Regions from separate parts of the Homo sapiens genome. Here region 2 is linked to region 1. Evidence: fine-mapped expression QTL. Tissue or cell type: lung. Region 1 holds a variant in brackets; the other region holds the start of a gene. All regions are shown on one strand. Distances are between the middles of the regions. Region 1 has its middle 20 kb from the start of ROS1. Region 2 holds the start of ROS1 (ROS proto-oncogene 1, receptor tyrosine kinase).

What was found. PIP is the estimated chance that this variant, and not a neighbour inherited with it, causes the effect.
Region 2: it holds the start of ROS1, and the variant in region 1 is fine-mapped to the expression of ROS1 in lung (TOPMed, PIP above 0.99).

Annotation. Positions count from the first base shown.
Region 1 is chr6:117,443,619-117,449,008 of GRCh38, forward strand. No RefSeq gene overlaps it. Among named protein-coding and RNA genes, the nearest start is that of ROS1, 20 kb to the left of the region's middle. The variant G/C (reference allele first, on the strand shown) is at 2,554.
Region 2 is chr6:117,422,855-117,428,244 of GRCh38, forward strand. It overlaps ROS1 (ROS proto-oncogene 1, receptor tyrosine kinase), which reads right to left and starts at 3,088. Exons shown (of 44, transcript NM_001378902.1): 1 at 2,680-3,088. The coding sequence starts at 2,802.

The DNA of each region.
Region 1 (5,390 bases):
TGTAAGCTATCTCAATTGTTAATATCGATTACATATTTAATGATATTTTGATACATTGGGTTAAATAAAATGTTTTTAATTTTATTTAATTTACATTGTATTAGGTTATTCCCAGAATACATGAGATCTACTGCCTATATTTCAAAGGAGTTACTAAAACAGAGATCTAAGACTGAGTAGGTCTTGGTTAGTATGCTAAGCTTTGGTTTTTGGGGAACTAAAATTGTCCCTATGAGCTCGAATTGGGGCTTTCTTATTTACCTAAAAACATATCATTAGGTCAATCAGTTTAATCAGGCTATTCTTCCCTGATCACTAGAATTCTGAAAAGTTAACCCTAACTAAATCCCTTTAATATGTGTGAAAAACTAGACTTCAGTTGTCCTTTCTAATCATGAAGACCACTGTGTTGACAGGATTATTGAGCACTGTGTCTTTGAATCTTCTCCCTGGGAGAACCCTGACAGTAGAAGACCATTAAGAGTTAAGTGGAGGTGATGCCCATCTCTGGATGCGGGCTTTGAGTTTTGAGCTTTGAGCTTTGCAGGAGCTCAAATTTTCTTCGTATCTCCAGTTTTGGTTTTAAATTCATGCAAACTTAGGATTTTACTCTATAACATTTTTTAATATAAAAATCAATTAAAAATTAACACTGGATCCACCAACTTCCAGACTTCTTTAAGTGAGCTCAGGTTTGTGTTAAGATATTTTCAGTTTGTTATTTTAATTCTTAGTCAAGAACTTCTCAATTGATATACCATAACAGAAGCAAGAAGAATATAAAATGTTAACAACAAAAGATGAAGCCTAACACCTTGGATGTTCTGGATGTTCCAAAAATGTTCATGGATGATGAATATAACTATCAAATGAGTAAAGTTTTAATGTCAAAAATATCCCCAAAAAAGTCTATCTATTTTTCTGGGAGCTTATTTCACTAACAAATGCAGGATGTGTCCCAATTAAACCTCAGGAGCACATGGCCTTTATTTACCAGTAAAGTTTGTCCCAGATATTAAACGGTCTTGCTCAACTACAGTTTACTGTCCACAGCCAAGACAGCTATATGTTCCCATAGCATATGTAGTGCAGATGACACAGCTAGTGTAGGCATTTTTCTGCTTTTCTAGTTGCTTTTATATCTGCCCTGAATTCTTACTGTAATATTCACTCCAAAACTTGCTCAATTGATTTCAAGAGGATTTCTCAATAGCTGGTATACCCCAAGCCACTTACTTCGAGTTACAAGAAAACTATGTTCTCATCCTAACCCCACCTGCCTCTTAAACCTCTACTTCTGTCTCTTCCTCTGGGAACTGAATAGTCAGGGATTCCCAGGGGAACAAGAGAGCCTGGAAATGGGTCTCAAGAGACCCAGTTGTGAGAGCTGTGTTAAGATAGCTGGCCTGTGGTCCCCAGGACAAGCACTGGCCTCATCAGGAGTGAATACTCTTATCTAGAAGGACAGGTACACATTGTTTTCCTCTTCCAAGACTTGAGTTGCTGGACACCAACTCAAACTCTGGACACTTCATTCTCTTCAGATCTTACTGCAACACTTGGAAATTTCAACATGGCAGTCTACCAGATCTAATTCTATACCAACACACTGTGTAAAGATCAGTTCTTCCCCTTCTTAAAACATTTTCGTGGCTAACGCATGTAATCCCAGCACTTTGGGAGGCTGAGGCAGGCAGATCACGAGGTCAGGAGATCGAGACCATCCTGGCTAACATGGTGAAACCCCGTCTCTACTAAAAATACAAAAAATTAGCCGGGCGTGGTGGCGGGCGCCTGTAGTCCCAGCTACTCGGGAGGCTGAGTTGAGGCAGGAGAACGGCCTGAACCCGGGAGGCAGAGCTTGCAGTGAGCCGAGACGGCACCACTGCACTCCAGCCTGGGCGACAGAGAGAGACTCTGCCTCAAAAAAAAAAAAAAAATTTTGCTGCCTTTCCATTTTCCTTAGAACAATCTCTGAAATCCCTAAAGTTGATGTGGTGTACAAGGACTTCCTCAGCCCACCTGGTCACCCTCTCCCTCTCTGACCTTCTTCTCTTACATCACCCTCCAACCAGCCAGACTCCTTCTGGTCCTTCCCTCCCCCCGTGAGCCTTTCCCATAAATCTCCACTGCCTGGAAAGCCCACCCCCCTCCCCAGCAGATTCATCCCACCCATCCCTCACATCATTTCCCCAGGGGCACCTTTTCCAACCCCAAAGACTAAGTTGTTTCTTCATTGTATGGTCTCAGGGCTCCTTGCATGCTCTTTTTGCCTACAGTTGCCACACTTATAATTATTTTATTGTCTTATATAACTTTTTGATTATTTATTTAAAGGATTTATTTCACCCTAGATTGTAAATCCCCTGAGATTAGAGAAGGTTTCACTGCTGATTCCTTGAACAACAATTTTGGCTGATAGGTTCAACCATGTGAAATGGCCGATAGACCAACATCTTGACCTTAAAAAAAGTCAGTTTTAGGCTGTGTGCAATGGCTCATGCCTGTAATCCCAGCACTTTTGGAGGCAGAGGCAGGTGGATAACTTAAGCT[G/C]AGGAATTCGAGACCAGCTTGGGCAACATAGCAAGACCCTGTCTCTAGAAAAAACAGAAAACATTAGCAAGGCATGGTGGTGCATGCCTGTGGTCATAGCTACTTGGGAGGCTGAAACAGGAGGATTACTTGAGCCCAGGAAATCAAGGCTACAGTGAGCTGTGATCATCCCACTGTACTCCAGCCTGGGTGGCAGAGTGAGAGACCCTGTCTCAAAAAAAAAAAAAAAAGTTAATTTTATATGATCCAATTCAATAACCATTCAATACATATTTATCAAATAAATACATTAATAAACCATACATTGTGGTTTTAGGTGGTGTGTGTGTGTGTGTGTGTGTGTGTATAATCAGCTACTAATGTAAATTTTTACTTTTAAAAGAAACTCCTTAAGTTCTGCTAACTTTTTAAATGTATTTCATTGGGTTTCATAGATATTTCTCAAAGTTAAACACAACAACAAATTCCAAAAATGGTCCCTACTAGAAATACAAGTTTGGCAATTTCCCTCACCTCCTTTGATCTTAGGTTAATTTTCTATTCTCCTGAGTTTTCTTCATTCTTCTGTGAAATTAAATTCAGCCGCCTGTCGAGCTCTCTGGATCCCTTGCAGGTGAGTTCTGCATGACTTCCTTCTGACCTGTGGAAGGAGGAACAAGGAATATTTCCAAATTTTGCACTGCCACCCCCTTCCCTCCCTGAGCGTTAGGCTAGACAGTAGTGGCCAGAAGCCCTTCTTGCTTCTCTCCTCCTGAAATTGATTCAGCCATTTAAGACTATGACTGTTCTCCCACACAGAAACTCCTCTCCAGAAATGCTTGGCCCAAACTCCCCTAACATTTGTAACTTCGTATAACTCTTTTGGTTCAAGTGCAACAAAAAATGAGTGGTACGGTGATGCCAATTTTGAGGTATCATAGTTAAGCCATGCTAAGTCACTTTAAAAACATTCCATTTTATTCCTCCCACAAAGTCACCCCCTCAGAGACTCTGGATGAGGGGAATACTGAGGGAGGAAAACATCCAGAAGAACAGAAAAAGGCAGTGATGTGGGACTTGAAAAATACTGCACAGAATTCTGTCTTCACCCCAAAGGCTGATTATTATAAATTAAACAGTTTGCCCACCTCAAGCAAGCATTCAACAGGCACATCCTATGTGCCAGTACTGTGATAACCAGCACCTTAGAGGCACTGGCATCCTGGCTTATGAAGCCCAAGGAAGGTAAAGAAGAGATGATTTTCCAGGCATGGTGGCTCACGCCTGTAATCTCAGCACTTTGGAAGGCTAAGGCAGCAGGATCACTTGAGCCCAGTAGTTCAAAGCCAGCCTGGCCAACATGGCAAAACCTCATCTGAACAGAATATTTAAAAAACTAGTCTGTCATGGTGGGTGCATGCTTGTAGTCCTAGCTACTTGGGAAGCTTAGGTGGGAGGAACGTTTGAGTCCAAGAGGTTGAGACTGCAGTGAGCCATGATCGCACCACTGGACTCCAGTCTGGGTGACAGAGGGAGACCATGTATCAAAAAAATAAAAATAAAAAATTTAAATAAGAAGAGATGATTTGATGATACAGAGAAAAATAGGAATGATCTAAAAGAAAGCAACTGAAATGGCTTGCTGCTCAAACTTAAAGCCTTTGCTAAATGCCCATGCTTTGGAGCACTAGAGAATGCCTGCTTTAAATATAGGACAAGAGAGGTGCTGTGCATCATGAAATAAAATGATGCCTAACGGCTAACTGGAAGAAAACAAAGATGAAGGAAGAACAAGTGGTCTAAGAAGAAAGGAGCAAGTCCTTCAGAAAGAAGGTTCTTGAAAACATCACATCCTGTCCCTCATCCCACCTCAGGAGCTGCTTGCGATCCAGGACGCCTGAAACCCTGCCTTTCCAGGGAGATTAGGGTAGAAAGCTCTCCCAGTAACAATCTGCTGATTTGAATTTCTGATGAATAGCAGCTCTGTGGAATTTATCAACATAGCCAGACCAGAGCCACTCTCCAAGGGACAAAGAGCCAGCATCGCCTGAGAGGAGAAGCTTTCTCTCCTTCACCCAGACTCAGCACTTGGTCTGTACCTGGCAAAAACAGGAAACAACAGCAATAATAGGAAAAGGAGAGTGTGCACGCACAACAGTCACAGTAATCCTGCCTTGGAAGGCCAACCAGATCGCTCAAGATCCCCACTCCTTTAATCCTTAATGCTCAATTCAGTGAGCACAATTATGAAATCTGTTTTACAGACGAGGAAACTGACGCTTGATTGATTGAGCCAGAGGTAAAACCCAGATGTGTCTGACACTACATCTCCAAATCTCTATATAGCCAAACATTGCATCTGAAATTCATGGCTTCCTTACTCTCTTAAATCATTTCCAAGTTAATTGATTCTATAGTCTATAGACCTGAAAGTAATTAATCATGGAAATGTTGAGGAATAAACTAGTTTTTCATATACTGCCTTTCTACTCATCATCCCTTTTGCTGACAGTCTGCTGCAATGAAAACATGACACCAAGGATCTATTTACTTTATTTTTAAACAGCTTTATTGTGATATAATTCATATACCATACAGTTCACCTATTTAAAGCGTGCTATTCAGAGGCTTTTAGTATATTTACAGTTGTGCAACCAGCACTGCTATCGAATTCCAGAGCATTTTCATCACCCAAAAAAAAAGAAACCCCGACCCATTAACAGCCGCTCCTCATTCCCCCTCCCGACAGTCCCTGGTAACCACTAATCTACTTTGTCTTTACTGCCAACTCTGGACATTTCATATAAATGAATCATACAATATGTGGTCTTTTGTGTCTGGCTTCTTTACTTAGCACA
Region 2 (5,390 bases), 21 kb before region 1:
TTGTATTCCGAATTGCATCCACCACAGAGCTGAATATACATAGATACCTAGGAAAATTTATTGAATGGAATCCATTCAATAAATTGATATTGAATGAAATTTATTGAATGGAATTGATACTCCTGAGCCCTTCTCAATATTAGTTCCTCAGTTGTTGTGATTTGTTAATTCAAAAAAAAAAGGGGGTTTGTGATGTAATTCAGGAATGGAAAACCAAACATCGTATGTTCTCACTGATAAGTGGGAGCAAAACTATGAGAATGCAAAGGCATAAAAATGATACAATGGGCTTTGGGGACTTAGGGGAAAGAGTGGGAGCAGGGTGAGGGATAAAAGACTACAAATATGGTGTAGTGTATACATGGCTGATGGGTGCACCAAAATCTCACAGATCACCACTAAAGAATTTACTCATGTAACCAAATAGCACCTGTTCCCCCAATAACTTATGGAAACATTAAAAAAGGGTTTTGTTGCTAAAGATGGGAAAATTATGATTAAACAAAGCTTTTAACATGTTATTGTGCCCTGTGAATCTACAAAAAGAGGGCATAGCAAAATACACTTCCACAAATGATTCAACCGTGAATTCTTTTTTCTTTATCATAAAGGATCTCACAATACTAGAGTTCTGAAGAGCATTAATTGTTTGTTGTTTTCTGCAGCACATGGCTTCTAGAATTCAAAAAAACTTTTCAGTTAATACTTTCAACTAGTACATGCAGATCTCTGTTAACGTAAGATAAAAGTAATGTAAAATACCAATGCTCAAGCATAGAACTCTGCTTCGTGCAATTTGGCCCACAATTCTAACATTTTATTTTTGGACAAGACATTCTTGTGGTGACTTTTTTTTTTTAAGAAAACATTTCTCAATATCAAGAATCACCCAATAAAATTATAGATGACCTTCAGAGTAAATGTCCATGTTTTTAAAAATGATGCAGAAAATATAATAAACTTGAGCACTTTGTATATCCTCTCCTGTGAACCATGGTTACATTCAATTGTACATTCACTTCACTTTTGTCCCTCCAGGCCCTATGTGGGAACATGTAGTACTTTCACTGGTCAAATTGGCAGACCGTGTCTCTCTTGCTGTTGCCACACATCAGCTGTGCCATTCTCTGTAGGTGGTGAACGGAAGGCAACTCAACAAAGGAACAAACTGTCTATTCCTACTGCCAAACCCTGGAAGCAAGGAGCCCACACAAAAAGATAAGAATAAATAAAACGACAGTAAAATAAAATGGAGACTGCAATATTGGAAACAACTAAAATCAGTTTCAGTAGCAGGGAAATTAACAAATAAATTATGGTGGTACATTCATATAATGGAATACTCTAAAGATAATAAAGATTCTGTTTCTAAAAAAATCTCAGGGTCTAGGGGAAAACTCACAATACAATGTAATGAAAAAGCTGGTTGCATAGCTGGGTGTAAATTATAGATATATATGTATACATATATATATATGAGGAAAAATACTAAAAGAAAATTCAATCAAAAGATTACTAGGGCTAGAATTAGAAGTTTTTTATTCTTCTGTAGTTCTCTATGTTATAAATATTTTATTTAAAATGTATACTCTTATTATAATTAGAAAAAAGTTAAAATCTTTTTTAGAACATTTAGTTTTCCATTCAGTAGTTGAAACATTTAGTAGTTCCATTCTTCCATTTTTAAGTTTGGGTTACAAATATAAAAAACTAAAGCATGCAATTCTATATTAAAGGCAATGAAGTCTTCGGCAAAGATTTATATAAAATACTAAACTTTTAAAAAAATGCTACTAACCATGGTAAACCTAAGTAGTGTTTTAAACTACAGTTTAAATCAAAAGTGTATAAGTGCAAGTTTCTTTTTAATCTGCCACATAATTCTATCTCCAATACTTTAGAATAATATAATGAATACTATATTTAGTACTTGCATTATGTTTAAAAGTATGGCTATAGATAGGGTCATATGCAAACTATCATGATATTTTATTTGTCTTTAGACAGGAAGAGTGCATTTTCTCTGTCTATAGAGTACTTGGTTTTTAAAGTTAATTCAGTGACTGTTTTAAGCACAACTAAATTACAACTGAAAAGAGATGGTACAATAGTTAGAGAAGGGATGACACCCAGAAATGAGAATGAAAGCATGAATTTCCATATAAAAAACTCACTAACTAAAATAATAAATGCACAAACAGAAATAAAGAAATGTACAAATAATTATTGCTTTAAAATATTATTTTACATGGCAACTGTATCTGCTTCCTTTTTCATCCAGCTCCCTACACAGCTGGAATTAGCAGGCATTATCCTGTGGCCAAACCGATTTCAGGTTTCAAGACAACTACTAATGACTTTGTAATAAATAAGTTTAAATAGAAAGTTTTTAAGTGTGCAAAATTGGCAAAATTGATTCCATTTAAACCTCCTTTACCCAGTCCTCTAGCCCAAAAAATATATGACCACATACCCTAAAGAAATAAAATAGCCTGCTTTATCTTCTGCAATTATAAGGGCTCCTAACTTATTTAAGAAAAAATAATCTATCTTGCCTTGTTGCCACCACTTCTCATAAGAAAACTCCTCATAAAGAGAAAACAATTCTATCAGTTATAACAAGCTGAATGCTACATGTTCTAGTTCCTGCAAAGACAAATATTAGATTGTGAGACTTACCAGATTAGTTACACACGACTTTAGGCAGCTATTTAAAACTGTACACTGCACCACAGAAATCCATAGGCAGCCAAGAGTTGCAAAATTGACAAGCTTCGGAATAAGACAGTAAATGTTCTTCATCACTTCACCAATGGCAGATTTTTAGATGGCCGGTCTAATTTTCTCCATTTTGCTATATGAATTATTTGGGCTTCATCACTTCAATTGGAGGAGTAGCTGATGGATTTTGCTTTGTTTGTTTTGCTATATTAGGATATACTTGCCTTTTGAAATAATACTTAGCCTTTTTCATTTAGACCTTTGAATGCTTGAAAGCTTGTAACAGTTCCATAAGAGCTATTTCATAACAGCTTCCTTTTACTCCCATAAAGTCACCCAGTGACTAAAGGTTAGTTCTTAGAAGTGCACTTCACATGGAAATTAAAGAAAACGAATTGTATTTCAGCAAGGGTGTGACACATGCAGTCTGAAACTGGAACATTTCAGTGGGTCGTCCACCACCTTACTTCTCTGAGCTCTTTTCAGCTCTGCAGGGAATTGGGTTTTGACCACGTATGCTTTAGCAAACAGTAGCACTATTATAATAAAGAATTATTGGAAAAATAGAGGCACCCAAATCAAGCAATGCAACTGAGAGAGAAAACAGAACTCAGAAGCCAAATACATATTTTTAAATTTAAGAGCAAACAAAGCTGAAATTAATAGACAAATACCCTGGGAGAGAGTTAAAAACAAGGAAGTTGGTTAGAGTACTCTCAGAACTTTACTACATATTAACTAAAATACTGACTTATCAGGTCTATCGAGACAGCTGAAACTAGTTACCAGAAACCTAAGATATGTTCAAGTGTCTGCTTTGAGAAGGAAACATTGTACAAGCTTCCTTCCTGCCTGCCTTCCTTCCTCTCTCTCTCTCTCTCTCTTTCTTTGAGACTGAATTTCTGTCTGTCGCCCAGGCTACAGTGCAGTGGCATGATCCCAGCTCACTGCAACCTCCGCCTCCCAGGTTCAAGCGATTCTCCTGCCTCAGCCTCCCGAGTAGCTGAGACTACAGACGCCCGCCACCATGCCCAGCTAATTTTTGTATTTTTAGTAGAGATGGGGTTTCACCATGTTGCCCAGAGTGGTCTCGATCTCTTGACCTCGTGATCCGCCCACCTCGGCCTCCAAAAGTGCTAGGATTACAGGCGTGAGCCACCGCGGTACAACAGGCCAACCTCCTTGTTTTCTTAAATAAATTATACTAAATGTAACTTAACCTTTTCTTAATGATATAAGGTTCTCCCTATGAGTAACACATGCATGAGGTTTTGTTTTGAGCTGAACGTCTTTTGATTGGATTTTTGTTTGTTTGTTTTTTAATTTTTGTGGGTACATAGTAGGTGTATGTATTTATGGGGTACAGGAGATGTTTTGAAACAGACATGCCATGTGAAATGAGCACATCATGAAGAATGGGGTGTCCATCCCCTCAAGCATTTATCCACTGAGTTGCAAACAATCCAAGTATGTTCTAAGTCATTTTAATATGTACAGTTATTATTGACTGTAGTCACCCTGTTGTGCTATCAAATAGTAGGTCTTATTTATTCTTTCTACATTTTTTGTACCCATTAACTGTCCCCATCTCCCATCCCCCACCCCACCCACCACCACCCTTCCCAGCCTCTGGCAACCATCCTTATACTCTCTTTGTCCATGAATTCAATTGTTTTGATTTCTAGATCCCATAAATAAGTGAAAACATGCAATGCTTGCCTTTCTGTGCCTAGCTCAATTCACTTAACGTAATAATCTCCAGTTCCATCCATGTTGTTGGACGTGACTGAATATGGCTGAATAGTTCTCCATTGTGTATATGTACCACATTTTCTTTACCCATTCATCTGTTGATGCATACTTAGGTTGCTTCCAAATCTTAGCTATTGTAAACAGTGCTGCAATAAACATTCACATGCAGATATTTCTTTGATATACTGATTTTCTTTCTTTTAGGCATATACCCAGCAGTAGAATTCTAGATCATATGGTAGCTCAATTTTTAGTTTTTTGAGGAACTTCCAAACTGTTCTCCATAGTGGTTGTATTGATTTACATTCTCATCAAAAATATACAAGGGTTTCCTTTTCTCCACATTGCCACCAGCATTTGTTATAGCCTGTCTTTTGGACATAAGCCATTTTAACTGGGTAAGATGATATCCCATTGTAGTTTTGATTTGCATTTTTCTGATGATTAATGATGTTAAACACCTTTTCATATGCCTGTTTGTCATTCGTATGTCTTTTGAGAAATGTCTATTCAAATCTTTTGCCCATCCTTTGATTGGATTATTTGATTTTTTTTCTATAGAGTTGTTTGAGCTTTTTATTTATTCTGGTTATTAATCCCTTGTCTGATGGGTAGTTTGCAAATATTTTCTCCCATTCTGTGGGTTTTCTCTTAACTTTGTTAATTGTATCCTTTGCTGTAAAGAAGATTTTTAACTTGATGTGATCTCGTTTGTCCATTTTTGCTTTGGTTGCCTGTGCTTGTTGGGTATTGCTCAAGAAATTTTTACCCCAACCAATGTCCTGGAGATTTCCCCAATGTTTTTTGTAGTAGTTTCATGGTTTGAGGTCTTAGATTTAAGTCTTTAGTCCATTTTGATTTGAATTTTGTATATGGAGAGAGATAGGGGTCTAGTTTTATTCCTTTATATATGTATA